2 separate regions of the Homo sapiens genome follow, and region 2 is linked to region 1. Evidence: fine-mapped expression QTL. A gene starts in region 1. The other region holds a variant in brackets. All regions are shown on one strand. Distances are from middle to middle.

The links. PIP is the estimated chance that this variant, and not a neighbour inherited with it, causes the effect.
Region 2: its variant is fine-mapped to the expression of RPS7 in subcutaneous fat (GTEx, PIP 0.98).

The regions. Positions count from the first base shown.
Region 1 is chr2:3,569,393-3,579,906 of GRCh38, forward strand. RPS7 (ribosomal protein S7) reads left to right here and starts at 5,868. Exons shown (of 7, transcript NM_001011.4): 1 at 5,868-5,958; 2 at 6,200-6,292; 3 at 6,425-6,496; 4 at 7,095-7,238; 5 at 8,318-8,382. The coding sequence starts at 6,218. It overlaps LOC124907726 (a long non-coding RNA gene), which reads right to left and starts at 5,717. Exons shown (of 2, transcript XR_007086196.1): 1 at 4,743-5,717; 2 at 1-1,846. RefSeq lists enhancers at 1-105, 106-711, 5,421-5,996, 5,997-6,573 and a silencer at 6,125-6,414.
Region 2 is chr2:3,601,302-3,610,331 of GRCh38, forward strand. COLEC11 (collectin subfamily member 11) reads left to right here. Exons shown (of 7, transcript NM_024027.5): 2 at 3,014-3,169. The coding sequence starts at 3,040. Among named protein-coding and RNA genes, the nearest start is that of COLEC11, 11 kb to the left of the region's middle. The variant C/T (reference allele first, on the strand shown) is at 4,388.

The sequences.
Region 1 (10,514 bases):
GATGGGCGGCTGGGCAGAGACGCTCCTCACTTCCTAGATGGGCTGGATGGCGGGGAAGAGGCGCTCCTCACTTCCTAGATGGGATGGTGGCCGGGCAGAGATGCTCCTCACTTTCCAGACTGGGCAGCCAGGCAGAGGGGCTCCTCACATCGCAGACGATGGGCGGCCAAGCAGAGACGCTCCTCACTTCCCAGACGGGGTGGTGGCCGGGCAGAGGCTGCAATCTCGGCTCTTTGGGAGGCCAAGGCAGGCGGCTGGGAGGTGGTTGTAGCGAGCCGAGATCACGCCACTGCACTCCAGCCTGGGCACCATTGAGCACTGAGTGAACGAGACTCCGTCTGCAATCCCGGCACCTCGGGAGGCCGAGGCTGGCGGATCACTCGCGGCTAGGAGCTGGAGACCAGCCCGGCCAACAGAGCGAAACCCCGTCTCCACCAAAAAAATACAAAAACCAGTCAGGCGTGGCGGTGCGTGCCTGCAATCGCAGGCGCTCGGCAGGCTGAGGCAGGAGAATCAGGCAGGGGGGTTGCAGTGAGCCGAGATGGCAGCAGTACAGTCCAGCTTCGGCTAGGCATCAGAGGGAGACCATGGAAAGAGAGGGAGAGGGAGACCGTGGGGAGAGGGAGAGGGAGAGGGAGAGGGAGAGGGCAAGAATATATATTTTAACAGGTAAACAGATCTTGGCTTTTTAACTGCCACCCTCCAAACCCCCAGCAGTATTCTGTCCTGGGCCAACTATCCAGGGTCTTGTGGTCCCTCCAGGATGACACGGTATTGGAGGTACTGTGATGAGTTTCCTTGGCACTGGAAGGAATCTTTCTTCCTTAATGCTACATCTATTAATTCCTCTTTGTGGCTATCTGGTTTGTTGCTACTCGAAGTGTGGTCCCTGGACCAGTATCATCAGCATTGCCTGTGAGCTAATTAGAAATGCAACATATTGGAGCTGCTGTGGACTGAATGTGTGTGTCCCCCCAAAGTGCACATGTTAAATCCTAACCCCCAAAGTGATGGTCTTTGGGTGGTGATGAGGTCGTGAGAGTGGAGTCCCACGATGGCATGAGTGCCCTTATGAAGGAGGCCCCTGGAGAGCTCCCTCAGCCCTTCTGCAAGGACACAGTGAGAAGAGGCTGTGAACAAGGAAACAGTTCCTCTTCAGACACGGCATTTTCTGCCACCTTGATCTTGGGCTTCCAGTCTCCAGAGAGTGAGAAATGAGCATCTGTTGTCCGTAAGCCACTCTGTCTGTGGCACTCTGTATAGCGGCCCAGATGGACTGAGACAGCGCCCACCTCCACCAAGTCCACAACTGCGGAATCAGCGTCTGCGTCCCACTGCGATCCCTGGGTGACCCGCTGTTTGTACACTGAAGTTGGAGACACACTGATTCTTAGAGAACATTTAACTAATGGATTTAATCCTCTCATTAATGGAAGACTAAGTTGAGGATCTGAAAGGTTAGATGATTGATCCAATTATACTTATGCTTGTTCTATAAAAATAATATTCAGAGACAGCAGGACCTTAAGAATCATTTGTTTGGAAAAATGACCTCTAATTACAAAAATCTGTGGTGGGTGGTGGAGAAGACCAAATCTCAATAGAAAAATGGTTAAATATCTATAGTCCCAGCTACTCGGGAGGCTGAGGTGGGAGGATCGATTGAGCCTAGGAGGTTGAGGCTGCAGCGAGGTACGAATGCGCCACTGAATTCCAGCCTGGGTGACAGTGAGAGACTGTCTCAAAAAAAGAAAAAGAAAAAAGAGGGCAACCCATTTCTCCAGGACTCCTGTCTGCAGCAGAGAGCTCTTCTCTTTCTTTTGCCTATTAAAATTCTGCTCTCAACCTAAAAAAAAAAAAAAGAAAAAGAAAAGAAAAAAGAAAAATGGTTAAAATATGAGCAGAAAACAATCACACAAAAACGTATAAAACGCTTTAAAATGGTCCTTGAACGTATGAAACCCATGGAAGGATGCCAACTTCACTCTGAATTAGAGAATGCAAATTAAATTACATTGCGGTCTCATTTTTCACCTGTCAGATAGAAACAAATTAAAAAGTATGATGACACATTCTGTTGGGAATGCTGTGGGAAAACAAGAATTCCCATATGACGCACAGCGCTTTTCTAAGGGAAGGTGGCAATGCGTAACAAAATTACTTATGCCTTTACCTTTTGAGGCTGAGATCCCACTTCTAGAAATTTATCCCAAAGGGGCTGCTCCAAAAGCATCCTAACGCATATGCCTAAGTTTATTTGTGGGGCATTGTTTAAAATTTCAAAATGTTGAGTATGACTCGGATGCAGTCCAAGTGTCTCCACAGAACACGGGCTGGGTGAAAGTGGTCTGACAGCCCAGCGGAGAGCGACGCCGTGGTGAAAAAGCATGAGGGAGGTCTCCTGAACTGACATGGAGGGATTTCCAGGAAATATGTTTAGGCGAACACAAAATGCAAAAATCAAATCCTGCTTTTGTGTAAGAATGAAGGAGAGGTAAGAAAATATACATTCAAGCAAAAAGAAACCCAGGAAGCATGAACCAGAAAGCAAGGTTGGGTGCAGGAGGGAAGGCAGGGGCCGGTGGAGTGTGGCCTTCTCAAGGGAGTGACCTCCTTAGATGGCTTTGACTTTCAGAAGCAGAGTGTTTCACATATTCAAAAGTCAACAAGGGCTGAGCATGGTGGCTCACACCTGTAATCCCAGCACTTCGGGATGCCAGGGTGGGCAGATCACATGAGGTCAGGAGTTCATGTCACCCAGGTTCAAGCGATTCTCCTGCCTCAGCTTCCCGAGTAGCTGGGATTACAGGCGGGTGGCACCACACCTGGCTAATTTTTGTATTTTTAGTAGAGACAGGGTTTCCCTGTGTTGGCCAGGCTTATCTCCTGACCTCAAGTGATCCACTCACCCTGGGTGGATTATCCCAAAGTGCTGGGATTACAGGTGTGAGCCACTGCGGCCCACCTGCATTGTTATTTTGAATGTATTTTCTCATAGTGTCAGATAAAGCAAGTAATTGTATTTTTGTGTTTAGGAAGCAAGGTTTTTATTACAGGAGAAAAGGAGATGCTATGATAGAATCGAGGATTTCAGAAGGAATTGTTCTGTTAGAAGTGGATTGAGAATGTCAATGTGAACTTGTATCTTTTATGAAAAAATTATTTTAAATGCCATCTTTCTAAGTTCTGTCCGCTGAAACGGCTTATGAGGAGCCCCACGATGCCTCCTGCTGCCAAAATTCTGGTCTCCAGTACTATTTTTCCAGAAAAACAAAAACAAAAGTATCAGCACTTCTAGGAGAAAAGGCTCATTCTATGTCTCAGGCAGAAAATTACAAGAGGAGCCTGGAATATCTTGTGCCAGAAAACAAGATGTTCAGACATTCATAGAAATGACAAGACTCGGCTGCTTATCTAAGAGGGGCCCCTCCTGGTCACAACTGAGACAATTTGAGGATCAAAGGAGAATATTGGCTGAGACTGATTGATGTACAGCAAATCTGAAATGTCCCATGTCCATAATGATACATAAAAGAGTTAACAAAGTGTTCTAAAAGTAAGTGGATTGCATAGATGATATTTCTGTTCATTGTCAATCATGTTGGTATTATCGACTCACTTATTGTATGGTTAAATAATAAAGAAGCTAGTACTAGTAAAACCAGGAAAACAATCTAATGTAATGATTAGTAGGCATTTCCTAACATAAAATTAGTAGAATGACCCTCTAAGTTGTGATTATGATCCTGAAACTACCTATTAAAAATACATGTGCAACCTCTATCAACTTCTATCAGGTTCTAGGTTTTAAAAATCACATTTCTTAGGATCTCATGAGGCTCAAAGCTAAAGAGTTAGAAAGGAAAAGCATTTATGTATATTAACAGCACATTAACAGCTAAAAAGAAAAACTCACATAATCATATTAGTTCATAGAAACAATGCATTTGACATACTCCAACATCCATTCATGATTTTATTTTATTTTTTATTTATATATTTTTTTTGAGATGGAGTCTCGCTGTCACCCAGGCTGGAGTGCAATGGCTCGATCTCGGCTCACTGCAGGCTCCGCCCCCGGCGGTTCACGCCATTCTCCTGCCTCAGCCTCCCGAGTAGCTGGGACTACAGGCGCCCGCCACCTCGCCCAGCTAATTTTTTGTATTTTTAGTAGAGACGGGGTTTCACCGTGTTAGCCAGGATGGTCTCGATCTCCTGACCTCGTGATCCACCCGCCTCGGCCTCCCAAAGTGCTGGGATTACAGGCGTGAGCCACCGTGCCCGGCCCATGATTTTAAAAAAACCTCTCAGAAATAGAAACAGAGGGAACTTCCTGAATTTGATTAAAAATACCTGCAAAATCCTAGAGCTAATATTATACTTAATGGTGAAAGACTGAATGGTTTTCCCCTAAGATGGAGAACAAGGCACGGATGTCCTTGCTCACCACTCCTATTCAACAAAGGACTGGAAACCAGAAATAACTTTAATTTTTTTTGTTCTCAAGTGATAGGTTCACAGAGAAAAAGCTTTACTGGATGAACTTTTAGATTACTACTTTTATAGAGCAGCAGAGATAAAAGCCAGGTCGAAAAGTGCATGTGGAGTAAGGAAATGGACCTAGTTCGACAAAAGGGCTCAGAACGACTGCCCAGATGAGATTGTAGACGCAGCTGTAGTTTACTTTCTATCTGGAAGAAACTTCAAGTTATCCTTAATTTTCCAAGGAGACAGTCACTTACCTTTTAAAAAACATTATTAGAGAAGCACCGGGCGGGAGCATATCTAGCATTAAAAATGTGGGATGAATACCATCTCTGCTTGGTAAAGGTGGTTGGGAATCCTGAGAGAGGGCACCTAGTGTGGCTTCTGCATTTTTCACAGTGCCTGGACCACGGCTGAAAGTAACTCTTGCATGACATTTGACAGAAGAGGAAACCGAAGCTCAGATTAAATTCCCTGTCCACAGCGGGATCATTCGGCACGAGTTCCTCCCTGTCTGGAATGCTCTTCCCCAGCAATAGATCCTGCGGCTCTTCCGTGTCTCAGTCTAATGTCATTCCGTTCCAGGATTCCCGACTTCTTAAAGCATAAATAATCCCTCCCCACCCTCTCATTGTACTGTTATGTAAGTTATTACAATATGTCATTATATATTTAGTCATACTGCTTTAGGTAATGTCTTCTCCACTGAACTGTAAGCTCCATGAGGGCAAGAGTTCAGTCGGTTTTACTTAATAATTAGCACCTAGTACAGTACTAGCATAGAATGAAGGCCTCGCAATTTTTTTTAAATTTATTTTTAGACAGGGTCTTGCGCTGTCGCCCAGGCTGGAGTGCAGTGGTGCAACCTCGGCTCACGGCAGCCTCGACCTTTCGGCTCCAGCGATCCTCCCGCGTCGGCCTCCGGGGTAGCTGGGACTGCAGGCGCGCACCACCATGACTGGCTAATTTTTTTTTTTTTTTTTTTGTAGACATGGGGTCTCGCCATGTTGCCCAGGCTGGTTCCTGAGCTCAAGTGATCCTCCTGCCTCGGCCTCCCAAAGTGCTGGGATTACAGGCGTGAGCCTCAGCGCCCAGCCAAGTTAGCCTTTTTTAAACGTCCTGTCTCCGGAGGTTGCCGAAGTTGGTTTTCTTCGGCCTCCTTCTCTCTCCCAGGCCCAGGGCTGGGACGAGGCCGGTTCCCGCCTGCAACCTGCACTGAAGACGGGAACCTTGGGAGCCGGTACCGGAACGCTCGGAAACGGCACCAAAGTACGAATCCTAGGGCGGAAAAGCGTTACCAAGACACTCGTCCCCAGAGCCGCTTCCTGGGACTCTCTAGCCTCCTACCGCTTCTCAGTGATGTTCCGGTTTCCGCCCTCCTCCTCGCGCTGTTTCCGCCTCTTGCCTTCGGACGCCGGATTTTGACGTGCTCTCGCGAGATTTGGGTCTCTTCCTAAGCCGGCGCTCGGCAAGGTAGGTTGGCGGCCTGCTCTCCGACAGAACTTTTCTTCTTGGGTTGAGGAAAACGCCTTTTGGAGTCAGGCCCTGGAGGGGCGAGCCTTGCTCACAGGGTGGGGATACAGCCGATTACCCGCCCTGTGCTTTCCGATGGCTTCTGCGGGGCGAGCGGGGCCTGGCCGGGGGGTGCGGGCGGGAGGGCGAGCCAGCGGCGCCTGCAGCCCGGGCCGCGTAACGCTGACCGCTGTGCCTTCAGTTCTCCCAGGAGAAAGCCATGTTCAGTTCGAGCGCCAAGATCGTGAAGCCCAATGGCGAGAAGCCGGACGAGTTCGAGTCCGGCATCTCCCAGGTGAGAGGGTTTCCCTGGGGTCTGGGGTGGGGGGAGGCGCCCCGCCCGGGAGGGGAGGCGGCCGCGCGTGTGTTGGGCCCGGGGTGCTCGGACGCGCGCTCAGGGTCGGTCCTGCTGTTCGTTGCTTCTTAGGCTCTTCTGGAGCTGGAGATGAACTCGGACCTCAAGGCTCAGCTCAGGGAGCTGAATATTACGGCAGCTAAGGTAAGCTGGCGCTCCCTCGGCTGGGAGGGAGGTTGCGGCGCGTCTCCCCGCGCAGTGCCTGAGAGGGTTGGACCTGGGTTACGGTTGATGATGACTTGCCGCCTGGCCGCCTAACCTGAACTCAGGTTCGGCCGTGTTGTTTGGGAGTGATACCGCCCAGGTGCGGGGAGTGGGGTTGCAGGTACCCTGCGGCTTAAGCTGTCCACATGCGGGCGGTGGAGAAACGTGGAGTAGGGAGGGCCTGGGCCCATTTCGGACCTTATTTGCCCTTACTTAGTTATAGATACGGCAAAGAGCTGTGGGGAGCTCAGGATGAGATTCTCTCTACCCTTAGCCCGGAGTTGCCGCAAGTGGGGGTGCAGAAGTGGTAGTGATTGGCCTCCTGGCCTGAACAGTCTCCCTTCCTGGAATAAGGAAATGTGAAGGTTGGAGAGAGATGAGAACATTTCCGAAGGATGCATTTATGATTAACTCAAAACTAGTATTAGTTTGTAGTGCAGCTACGGTGTTAGTGATAAGGTCTTCTTATCCTCTAATTTGACCACAACGTTTACTTTCTGAAGCAGTTAACACAGTGGATTTTTGTTTTTTTCTTTAGGAAATTGAAGTTGGTGGTGGTCGGAAAGCTATCATAATCTTTGTTCCCGTTCCTCAACTGAAATCTTTCCAGAAAATCCAAGTCCGGCTAGTACGCGAATTGGAGAAAAAGTTCAGTGGGAAGCATGTCGTCTTTATCGCTCAGGTATCTGTTCTACTGTTGCAGCACGTTTCTGTTTGTGAATTTTGCTAAAATTGCTTGTATTTAGACTGCATTGGTAGTTGGAGTCATGAAAACAATCCTTTTATGAATCCAATTGGGTAGAAAGATAAAGTACAGGCAGAGCGCCGTGGCTTAGGCCTGTAATCCCAGCACGGGGAGGTGGAGGCGGGTGGATCACTGTAGAGACCAGCCTGGGCAACATGGTAAGACCCTGTCTACAAAAAATAGAAAAAATAAGTTTTAAAAAGAAAGATAAAGTACGTTCTTTAATTAAGAGTCGAAACAAGAAGTCTGTAAAGTGACAGACTGCTGTGTTTTGAGTTATGAAAATGATTTCCCATATTTAAATTTCCACAAGTCTAGTGGGTTGCTTACATAGATGATCAAACTAAGAAACCTGTTACAGGCCGGGCCCTGTGGCTCACTCCTGTAATCCCAGCACTTTGGGAGGCTGAGGCAGGCGGATCACGAGGTCAGGAGATCGAGACCATCCTGGCTGACACGGTGAAACCCCGTCTGTACTAAAAAATACAAAAAATTAGCTGGGCGTGGTGGTGGGCGCCTGTAGTCCCAGCTACTCGGGAGGCTGAGGCAGGAGAATCGCGTGAACCCGGGAGGTGGAGCTTGCAGTGAGCCGAGATCCCGCCACTGAACTTCAGCCTGGGCGACAGAGCGAGACTCCATCTCAAAAAAAGAAGAAACCTGTTACAGTTCGGATGGGGGATTGGTGCAAACTGAAGTCTATGGGGAATGAAGTGCCAGGATTGATCTGGAATAAAAGTAGTATTCTGGGTCATAGGCATGGGGAAAGGCGTATCTGGGAGATTTTGTCCACTGGCGTATTAGTAGAGGCTGTGGATTCTGAATGATTTATTCAAGAATCAGGAAGTAACTCCATAGAAGGGTTTGCTCAGTCAATTGTTCGTCTAAGTTGTTTAGCCTTCTCGAACTTTGAACTTACCCTGCCATTCTTCTTGCTTTTAAAGCAGTATGGCAGTTACAGCTTTTTGTCAATTTAAAGTCTTTTTTCATTTTGTTACATGATAATTTTTACCTTACAGAGGAGAATTCTGCCTAAGCCAACTCGAAAAAGCCGTACAAAAAATAAGCAAAAGCGTCCCAGGAGGTGAGTATTTTAGTAGTTTCAGAAATGTGTGTACCCCTCTTATTAACAACTCTTAATTTGTTTAAGTTGTAGTTTATGAAAACAGATGTTCAAGTGGGAATTTTTGAGTAGCAGCATTTGGTTTCCTGTATAGTTGCACATGATACGTTTTAGAATTCTAGATGTAAAACATACATGTATTCATGTAGCCATTGTTTGCCTACTAGGTCAGTGCTGTCACAAGATGAGATGATTTCCTCCGATTATTTGTGCACAGGATAGGAATGATGAGAAGGAAATCATTACTTTAATTCTGTGATATAGCATGCTAGACACAGTTGACATGGGCTTGGATTTATCTTTGATTTTTATTTTTGCTGTGGATTGGAGGTAAAAAAATGTAGGTGGATTTTGGTGATAACATCACAGGTTAAAATATCACTGCAGTTGAAGATGCTGATGGAAAATGATTTATGAACTTGATTGACTTACAGGTTATCTGGCATAAACTCAAATATTGGTAGTTGTCTTCTTGAACTAGATCTTTTGGTATTTTGTTAGTCTCTGATTAGTATGTTGTTTTACAAATGTGAACTATTAAATCCCTGTGGACTCTTCCCTAAGGATGAGTTGAAGAAAAAAAAAATCCTAGTGTTGCCTGTGCCCTCTAACATGTTTAATTTGTATTGTTACTCTCAGTGGATGAGGAAACTGATCCAAGGCTGGGATAATTTGCTGATTGCAGCTAGTACTAGTAGTGCTAAGAATGTTTTTTTTTTAACTCGGTCTTGTTCTGAAAACCACTAGAACACAGTGTTGGGAGTCTGGTAATGTGTTATTGTGTCGAGCTGTGGTATGTGGAAAGGTAGGTGCCAGCTTTTCTAGAACTTGAATTCTATGGCTTAGTACTTTGAAAAACTTTTAAAGGCAGAGTGGCATAAGAATTTAGGATTTTTTTCCCCTAAATCATGACACTTAAAGAGGGTTTTGGAAACTCAGTTCTGAGAACCTCAGTTAGGAAATGAGTATAAGAACAGTCCCAGAGGACTGTCCCTCAAATCCATAGCTTTAGTTTCCCTCAGTACAAACCTCTGTTTTCCAAATTTTCTCAGACAATGGCTTCAGTGTTTCTAGTGGGACCTAGTCTGTACATTGAAAGCCTTCACACTAAGCCTAGCTGGTAGGTCATAGTGATTCTACCACTTTTCCAATCCGGCTTCCTGCTTTCAGATTTATTTTCCCTATTCAGTAGAGCTATCTTTATCTAACTCAGGTTAAATGCTGAAATTGATAGTTTTTGGGTATAGCAGGGTTTTTCCTCTAAAGCGCTCCAGTCCCTGTGGTTTGTGATGATTGAGTTATGGTGCCATTGCTCCCCATTTTAAAAGATTGTAGATGACATTGGAATCTAATTTCCGTATTTGGGTGCTTTCCTAGTATTGTAAGAATATGCTTAATTAATGAGTCGCAATGAATAATCCGTTTGTCTTGATTTGCTTTCTGAAAGGTGATGAGGGTTTTGGGAAATGGACTTTGTTCAGGCTTTTGCCCTTTGTGGCTGTGACATATTAAGATGTTGGCAGTAAAATTGAGAGCCACCAGAAGATGTTAACTGTGTATATGGGCGCTGCCAGATAGGAAATCCAAATGAGTAGACTATAGTGTTATTGTTAGCTACTATGGGGTGAGACGTAGACAGATAACCATATGTAAGGCAGCTCCCTAAATGCTGAAACAAAGAACCGTCTCTTGACTTACTCCTGATGTCTCATGGTACATGGTAGCTGCCCCAAAAGCTTGCAATTAATTGAAACTTCTCATTTGTTAGGTGGCAGGTAGGTAGGTTTTGAACTTGGTAGTGATATTCAGACGAGGAGCAAGATTCCACTGGCAGTTCTGTGATGCTAAGTAAATGATGTGATCATATCCGTGCTTTAGAAAGATTATCTTGACATTGGAAGGGGGTGGTTTTGGAGATGAGCAAGAGTGTTAAAGGTTATTGTAGTGATTTAGTTGAGAAATAATACAAGTGAAAATAAAGATGTATAAAAGTCCTCTAATCTCACATTCCCTAGAGATGGTCACTCATTGCCTTGGTGAGTTTGTAGTTTATCCCAGAGTAACATTTAAAATTGACTGAGCTTTTGAAATAA
Region 2 (9,030 bases), 31 kb after region 1:
TTATTATTATTTTTTTTGAGACAGGGTCTCACTCTGACTGCCCGGGTTGGAGTGCAGTGGTGTGATCACCGCTCACTGCAGCCTCAACTTCCCAGGCTCAGGTGATGCTCCCACTTCAGCCTCTCCAGTAGCTGGGACTACAGGTGCGTGACACTACACCTGGCTGCTTTTTTGTAGAGATGGGGTTTAGCCATGTTGCCCAGGCTGATCTCAAACTCCTGGACTCAAGCAATCTGCTGGCCTTGGCCTTCCAAAGTGCTGGGATTACAGGCGTGAGCCACTGTGACTTTGTGCTTTATAGTACCTTTTTTCCCCCGAGCCATTCTTGGACATCCGGGATGAGAGACGGCTTCAGCTTTAAGGTCTGTAGGTTTTCACAGAGGTAGGATTTAAGTTCTGTCATCTTCGGCAAGTGAAGCTCTCCCACGCGCGTGCCCAAGCCCTGGCTCCGCCCTAACTCTAATCCTCTCTCCCTTCCCGCCCCGCCCCTTCATCAACCCTTGCCTCAGTGGAAACGGACATTTAACATGGAATGTTCATGGCAGTAACCCTAGCCGTCTCCACGTCATCTTTTTGTCTGTGACCATTGGAGGCGATTTTTTTCAGATTTGGGAGAAGGATTTCAAATGACTTCCCTTCGAGCTGCAGGGCTATCTTGGGCATCTTGACCTCCACACATTTCTGGGAGAACTCCTCGTGCAGCAGGACATCAGGTGGCAAAGGTGGGCTCTCGCCAGCCAGAGGCGGGGTCTCTGTAGACTCCATGGGGCCCTGGCTTTCGGGATCTGTCCGGACCACCCTCCCCTGGCTTTTGTAGCAGGGCTCTCACGGGGCTGTTGATGTGGGAAGCCCCCCACCACAGATGGCCTTTCTCTAGCAGCTAAGGTGACCTTCATTTTGGACCTGAGAGGGCCAGCTGGCTTGGAATTGTGGGAGAGAAAATGGAGGGTACCCTGACCCCCAAGCCTTGCAAACCGAACCATTGCTCCACCCACTGGGTCACATAGGAGTCTATAGTGTCTCAGACTCGGAAAGTTGAACCCGAGCCCCTGACTTCACTTCACCTCCTCAGTTCTGTTTCTCAGCAGCTGGCTGCACTGTTCACCTGGCTGCTCAGAACAAAAGCTTTAATCTTTGATTTCTCTCTGTCATTTCCCACATAACTGATCAGCAAAACCTGTCAGCTTTGCTTCCAGACTGCATCCCATACCTCTGTCATCACCTCCACCCACACGTGGGGTCCAGCTGCCATCCTCGCCCGCTGTGCTGTTGTGGTCACCCTGGCTTGGTCTCCTTGCTTCCGTTGCTGTTCCCCTAAGTCCCGTCTCAAGAGCAGGGAGACCCTTTTGTAAAGCCGCTCGCTGATCCAGACCCTCTGTCTCATACAGAGCAACCCCCAAAGCTGCTGGGCGCCGGCTCCTGTCTCCTGTCCTCTGTGCCCACCAGGCCAGCCCACCTCTCCCCGCACTGTCCGGCATGCACTGCCTCAAGGCTTTCTCTGAGCCGCCCTCACCCACCTGTCAGCGAGGCTTCCCTGGCAACCATCCTGAACAGCAGCATGTGTCCCGGCCACTGGACTCTGCCTCACTCTTCCCCACGGCGCTTACCCCTGCCTCTGTCTGTCTCTGTCTGTCTGTCTGTCTGTCTCTTCCAATAGGAATAAAAACATAAATGTTCTTGCTCTACTCCTGGTGCCTAGAGCTGTGCCTGACATTTGGTCGGCATCCACAAATGTTTCTGAACGAATGATTAACCAAACGAAAGGCTGCCAGGAAGTATCCGGAAGCATGGCCTTTGGGATGGACAGATGCTCCTGTGGCTTCCATGCTCTGCGGAGCCCCAGTCCCAGCTCGCCACGGCTCTTTATCAGCTGTGCTCCAGGGCTGCTGTCCGCACTCTGCCCTTCTGGCCTGTCCCTCTCTCCCCTCCTGTCCCTTTCCCTCTGTTTCCCGGGCCTCTCCCTTCAAGTTGAGTAGTTTCCATTGCCCTCTTTGTTTTCCGAGTTTTATTTATTTATTATATTTTATTTTTTTTTGGGACGGAGTCTCGCTGTCATGCAGGCTGGAGTGTAGTGGCGTGATCTCAGGTCACTGCAACCTCCGCCTCCTGGGTTCAAGCAGTTCTCCTGCCTCAGCCTCCCAAGTAGCTGGGATTAGAGGTGCCCGCCACCACACCCAGCTAATTTTTGTATTTTTAGAAGACATGCGGTTTCACCATGTTGTCCAGACTGGTCTCGAACTCCCGACTTTAGGTGATCTGCCCACCTCAGCCTCCCAAAGTGCTGGAATTACAGGTGTGAGCCACTGCGCCTGGTCTTGTTTTCCAAGTTGTAACGCCCTTCACGATGAAGAAACAAAGAGGTCAGCACGTACCCGCCCCTCCTGGGATGGTCAGATGTCCATGACACCCCTCTTCCTATGGGCTCGGCCCCCACCTCCCCAGGCCCCTGGGTTCCTAAGGCCGGGGCTCCTCTCTCCTTACTGATCTCACCGAGGAAGGCCAGGTGCCTGTCTCCTGCCACCTAAGGAGATGTGGGGGCGTGGATTCCTTGTCTGTGAATGGAGCCGCTAAGCTTGGGGCTCCTCAGGCGCCTTGGCTGTTTCCTTTAGCTGTATCTCAGCCTCCCTCCGCTGTGCCCAGCTCTGCAGAGGCTCCATGTCTGTGGCTGGCTATGCTGTGTGGAGACCCCTACTCCACTCTGTGTAGGAATCGTTTGTCCCAGAGATCAGATCGAACTCCTTGGGGTGGGCGAGCCGTAGGCCTTCAATCAAGGCTCACTGACCAGGGCTGGCATGCACTTGGTGCCTGGTGCTGACCCTGGGGCTGCTGTGGAAGCTTCTCAGTGGAGGCTCATGATTGGTGCTTGAGTGAGTGAGGAGCACCCGCCATGGGGGCCCAGACAGCCCTTCCAGGCACCAGGAGGGCTACACCCCTTGCCTCCGAGGCCTGCTCACTGTCACTGGCTGCCCGGCTGTTGCAGTTCCCATCACTGTTTATTCCTTCCTCTGTGTAGGAGTTGGTGTCCTGCCTGCGCTCAGGATGAGGGGGAATCTGGCCCTGGTGGGCGTTCTAATCAGCCTGGCCTTCCTGTCACTGCTGCCATCTGGACATCCTCAGCCGGCTGGCGATGACGCCTGCTCTGTGCAGATCCTCGTCCCTGGCCTCAAAGGTAACCGCTCCCTGGACTCTGGGCTGCTGGGCAGTGGCCTCCGGGCCAGCTGAGAGACTCCCATGCAACTGCGCAGTTCCACGGAAAAGCACAAAGCCCCAGCAAATCTGCTTACCCCATTGGGTCTCAGTTTCCCCATCTGGAAATCAAGGGTTGGGTGACATGATGTCTAAACTGTCTTCGGCCATGGAATTCCTAATTCTGAAGATGGCAATTTATTTGCAACTCAGCCCTCTCCGGGGGGACCTTGCTGGAAGGCACCTGGCTTTCCGTCAGACCCTGCACACATGGCCTCGTGTGATCCTCCCCATGAGATGATCTCATGTGGACCATTTTACAGATAAGGAAATTTGAGGGTCAGAGAAAATTTGCAACTTGTGTTAAGTTCCCAAAGTGTGCTTCTACATTGCTTCCTGAGAGCTCTTAATATTTTATTTTAAAAATTAAAAAATCCCTGGTGGTCTAGTGGTTAGGGGAAAAAAAAAAGACAGGAACTTTTTTTTTTCTTGTTGCTTTGTCTGTAATCTGCTCCCGGATAGAGATAGTTCTGCAGGTGAGGCATGGGTGAGAAAGTCCCTGAGGCTGCGGTATCTGAAGCCTCCAGAGCAGCATCTTCAAGTAAGAAAATGACCAGCTTCTACAAAGCAGAGGCAACAGGTCCCCAAGCCTGGGGGAGCCCGGTGTGAAATGAAAATGTGGGCCCCTTGTTCAAAATTACAGAACCCAAGAAGGGACAGCAGAGTGTGTGCCAGTGTCGGGTGGCAGGGCCGGGGCTGCACCGGCCGCAGCAGAGTCCAGGCCGCCGCTGAGGGGAGTCACGTGGGTGCCGAGGAGGGGGCGGGGGAGTCACGTGGGTGCCGAGGAGGGGGCGGGGGAGTCACGTGGGTGCCGAGGAGGGGGCGGGGGAGTCACGTGGGTGCCGAGGAGGGGGAGGGGAGTCACGTGGGTGCCGAGGAGGGGAGGGGAGTCACGTGGGTGCCGAGGAGGGGAGGGGAGTCACGTGGGTGCTGAGGAGGGGGAGGGGCGGCCACGTGGGTGCTGAGGAGGCGGGGGAGGGGAGTCACGTGGTTGATGAGGGGGAGGGGAGTCACGTGGGTGCTGAGGAGGGGAGGGGAGTCACGTGGGTCCTGAGGAGGGGGAGGGGCACATTGACCTTTTGCAACCTGAATCCGGTCCGCCCCCTCCTCATCCGCGGTCCGCTTGGGCCTTCAGCTTCTC[C/T]TGTGGAGCGTCTGCGGCTCTTTTTATTGAAACATTAGAGAAAAGTAGATTCAAACCCATGATCAAAACAGTCACCACGAAAGACAAACCCTGCTCAGCCCGTGTTGTACAAAATGAAAAGGTCAGCCCTCTCCCGGGGCACAGGGTCCGGACAGCTCGGGGCCACCCTGCCAGGCTGTGCAGCTCTGGCTGGGGGCTTTTTTCCGGCTGTGTTAGCCCTGCTGTTGGAAACCAAGTGGACTGTCCTGCAGCCCAGACAAGCCCAGTGGCCTTTGTGCTTTTAATTGTGATAAATGTACCTGCTTTAGAAAATGTTTAATTATGTTGGAAGCAACTTAAACTGTTGGATGCCTACGGCTCTCTCAGAAGTTTTGGTGAAAGTGGCTTTGGCCCTGACTTTGTGGTAGCGTGTGTGGGTTTGTGAGTGGAACCTTCAGCTTTAGGTTGGAAACGGTGGCTGTGGAGAGCTGGACTTTTGGCTGTGGAGGTCACGTCCCTGCCCAATGTGGTGGGTGCCTCCGAGTCCCTACGGTTGTCTTCCCTGCGCCCTGCCAGGTCAGTAGCCTGCACTGGTGGGGGCCGTGGGGTGGGCTCCAGGGTCCTTTCTGGGCGCCGCCTTTCCCAGGTGCTGTTGGGAGGGTCCTTCCCAGCTGTCCACGTCCTGGGTCCCCTGGATGTGCTGTCATTTCCCACATGGGTAGGGTCCCTTCTCAACCTTTGCAGGCTGGGAAGTAGGGCAGGTCTGAGGGTGCTGTGGGTCAGCCGTCCTGCGTGACGGGTCACCTGTCCTCCCAAGCCTCGGCCTCCTGGTCCGTGAGGTTGGGGAGGCGATGCCAGCTTGGGGCTCTGTGGGGATGCAGTGGTGGCACCAGGAGTGGGCACACAGTGACCGGGGACCCAGCCCCTGCTCCTTGCTCTGGGACAGTGACTTACAAAGCACTAACCCTGTGCAGGCAGCGAGCCCGACCAGGGAGCAGATCAGGTGTCCGTCCAGCACGTGCCCCGCGAGTCCGCAAGCGAGAGGCGAGCACCAGGGGCAAGGAGCGGTTTAGAAGGATTCAGGATACCCAGCATGTCAGGAATTGGGTTACTCAATGGAGAAAATGGTGTGTGCCAGCAGACTTCATCCCTGCCGGCCCCAGCATGTGCCGTAGCCCCCCAGGGTCGCTGGAGGTCAAAGAGGAGAGGCAGCGTGCGGCACAGTGCCAGCTTCTAAGGAAACAGACACACACGCAGTCACCATTCATTAGACAAGCGTCCGTTGAGAATCCACCAGGCAGGCTCAGGGCTGGGATGAAGAAGCCGCGGCCTGTCTCCTCACAGTCCCGCCGTTCGGCCCCGGACACGGGGTGGCATCTGGTCTGAGAAACACAGCACGCGCCGCCCCCCCAACCCCCACAACCCCCTGTGTTTTGGATCCTGAAACCTCTGCCAACTCCACATTTGGCTGGAGAATCTTCCTGAGCACACGAGTCAGGCTGCCGCTGACTGCTGGTGGTGCTTGAGATGACATTTATTTGCCATTCCAGGCCATTTCAGATAATAATAATATATTATCTTTACATTTAGAGGGAATAATATATTGTCTTTACATTTAGAGAGAATGACAACTCCTTTTAATGGGAAAAAAGTCTTTTTTTAATGGTTAAAAAAATGGCTGTAGGTGAGAAAACATTTATCTGTATTAACAAATGTGTTTCCCAGAAATATGAAAGGTCATAGTTCTTCTTATAGGCTTTATCAAATGAATTTTTTTTTTGCTTTTTTTTTTTTTTTGAGATGGAGTTTCTCTCTTGTTGCCCAGGCTGGAGTGCAATGGTGCGACCTTGGCTCACTGCAGCCTCCGCCTCTCAGGTTCAAGTGATTCTCCTGCCTCAGCCTCCCAAGTAGCTGGGACTATAGGCGCGCACCATCAACGCCCGGCTAATTTTTGTATTTTTAGTAGAGACGGGGTTTCACCATGTTATCCAGGCTGGTCTCGAACTCCTGACCTCACGTAATCCACCCGCTTTGGCTTCCCAAAGTGCTGGGATTACAGGTGTGAGCCAACATACCTGGCCTATCAAATTAATTTTAAAATCATTTACTGCCATTCTTTAAAACAACATTGATAAAACCAGTAATGGGGCCTGAATAACATGCGCTGTGGGAGGTTTGCTCTTCTGACACCTGACGGCCTGTCTGTGCCGTCTCCCCTTGTGTAGAACAAGCCAGGCAGGCTGAGGTCCTGGCTTTCTCCTCTCTGACTTCCCATGGCCCTGGGGTGCCGTGGCACTTGTTGTGGCCAGCAGGGATGTGAAGTCGCTGGCACACGAGTTTGTTCAGCTTGTAAGCAGGTGGCGTGACAGTCAAGCACTGTCCACGGATCTTCCTCAACTGGCTATAAATATGTCGAAGTATCTTAGGTTCTCAATAAAATAACTGACATGCGCCTTCCTAGCTGGGTTGGAAATGACCCCAAATACGATCTAGGTAAAAGCTTTTTGTTCGTAGATTTGTACATGATTTGCAGGGAAGCCAAGCAAACAGTAAATGTCAGCCACGTTTTGTTTCTTTGAGCGAGGAGAGAGCTGCGTTGTGGTGATGGTGGAAGTGAGCCAGCAGTTGAAATGTTAGCCTCTCCTGGTAGAGAAATAACTTGTCATTAGAACTTTATGTAGTCAATCATCCTGAAAATGAAAAGGATGTGGGAAAAATGTCATTGTGCTCGCTGGGTCTACATTACAAAATGCATGGAGTGTTGAGTGGGGACGTGTATAGAAATCCTGCTCTGGAGTCATTACCTGCAGGGACATACATCTTTATGACCCCTGGGACCAGTGGACAATGAACACTTCAAACCTTGCCAAATTGGCCAGGTGCAGTGGGTCACGCCTGTGATCCCGGCACTTTGGGAAGCCGAGGTGGGAGGATGACTTGAGCCCAGGAGTTTGAGTCTACCCAGGGCAACAGAGTAAGACCCCATCTCTGGAAAACAAAAAACAAAAACAAAACAAAACAAAAAAACAACCCTGCCAAATTGTGAACAGTGCTTGAAAACAGCCTTGGTTCTTAAGATGCGTGGACAGGGCAAGTCTACAAGGCGGAGGCGACGGGGACCGTGGAGAAACCAGGGCAGCCCCGCCGTGGATGGGAGGCCTCTGTACTCTCTGGTCCTCAGTGCTGTTGGTCCTGAACCAGGGATTAAAATACTTTTTCTCGTGACAACCAGCACGGTGTCTTCCAGGGCATATTTTGTTCAATCCCCATCAGAGCTGAGGAGGACCAGGCTGGGAGGGCTTACGCTGGGTTTTGCACAGGAAGGAAAGCAGTTTCTGACTCCAGGTTTGGGTTCCCCACACTGCAGGCACAGCCGTGAGGCATTTGGGGTGCCTGCTGCCCAGCACTGGCTGAAATGCGCCTGGCCCTGTACAACTACAGACACAGGTCCATTAAGCAGAGCCCTTGGGAGATGGCATGTAAGTGGATTTTGTGATTAGCTGAGAGATATAAAGAAAACGTGTGTTAAATCCTCTTCTTTAGAAAGTCTTGCTGTTTTTAATGACTTATGATTCTTTCTCTCCTGCTTTAGTAACGAGAGTTTGTGGGACACAGTGTAATGTGTGGTGCTTTTCAGGGTCTCTTTCCGTGCCTCCAGTTGTTACTATGAACTATTTTTCTTTGATTTTTTTTTTTTTTTTTTTTTTTTTTTTTTTTTTAGAGACAGGATCTTGCTCTGTCACTCAGGCTGGAGTGCAGTGGTGCACTTATAGCTAACTGCAGCCTGCAACTCCTGGGCTGAAGAGCTCCTCCCACATCAGCTTCCTGAGTGGCTGGGACTACAGGTGCACAGCAACACATCCTGCTATTTTTTTTTTTGAAATGGAGTTTCGCTCTTGTTGCCCAGGCTGCAGTGCAATAGCGTGATCTTGGCTCACTGCAACCTCTGCCTCCTGGGTTCAAGCGATTCTCCTGCCTCAGCCTCCAGAGTAGCTGAGATTATAGGCACCCGCTACCACGCCTGGCTAATTTTTGTATTTTTAGTAGAGACGGGGTTTCACCATGTTGACCAGGCTGGTCTCAAACTCTTGACCTCAGGTGATCCACCCGCCTTGGGCTCCCAAAATGCTGGGATTACAGGTGTGAGCCACCATGCCCAACCCCTGCTAATTTTTTTGTAGAGATGGGGTCTTGCTGTGTTGCCCAGGCTGGTCTCAAACTCCTGCCTTTAAATGATCCTCCTGCCTTGGCCTCCCAAAGTGCCAGGATCACAGGCATGAGCCACTGCACCTGGCCAACCAGTTTTTAAAAATCAGATTAGAGACAGGCAGATGGATGCAGGTGGAGGTTGGTCAGAAGCTATCATGACAAACTTGTCCTTACTGCTTTATCTTTAGGAGGAGAGGAGACGAGGGTGAGTAGTCATGCTGGTTAGTGAGTCTCGCTCTGGGGTTTTGAAGCCTGAGCAAGGTGTGGTAAAGACACACTGGCGTGCCAGCACATCCCAGCTTGGACATGTCACTTGATTCTCGTAGCTGTGTCTTCACCTCTAGAGTGGACATAGTGCCCGCCCCATGTAGGGGGAGAGGTGAAATTATTATGCAAATAAGTGAATGCCGTGTACAAACTCCAGGAGCTTTCTTAAGCAGTATGAGAAGAGCTGG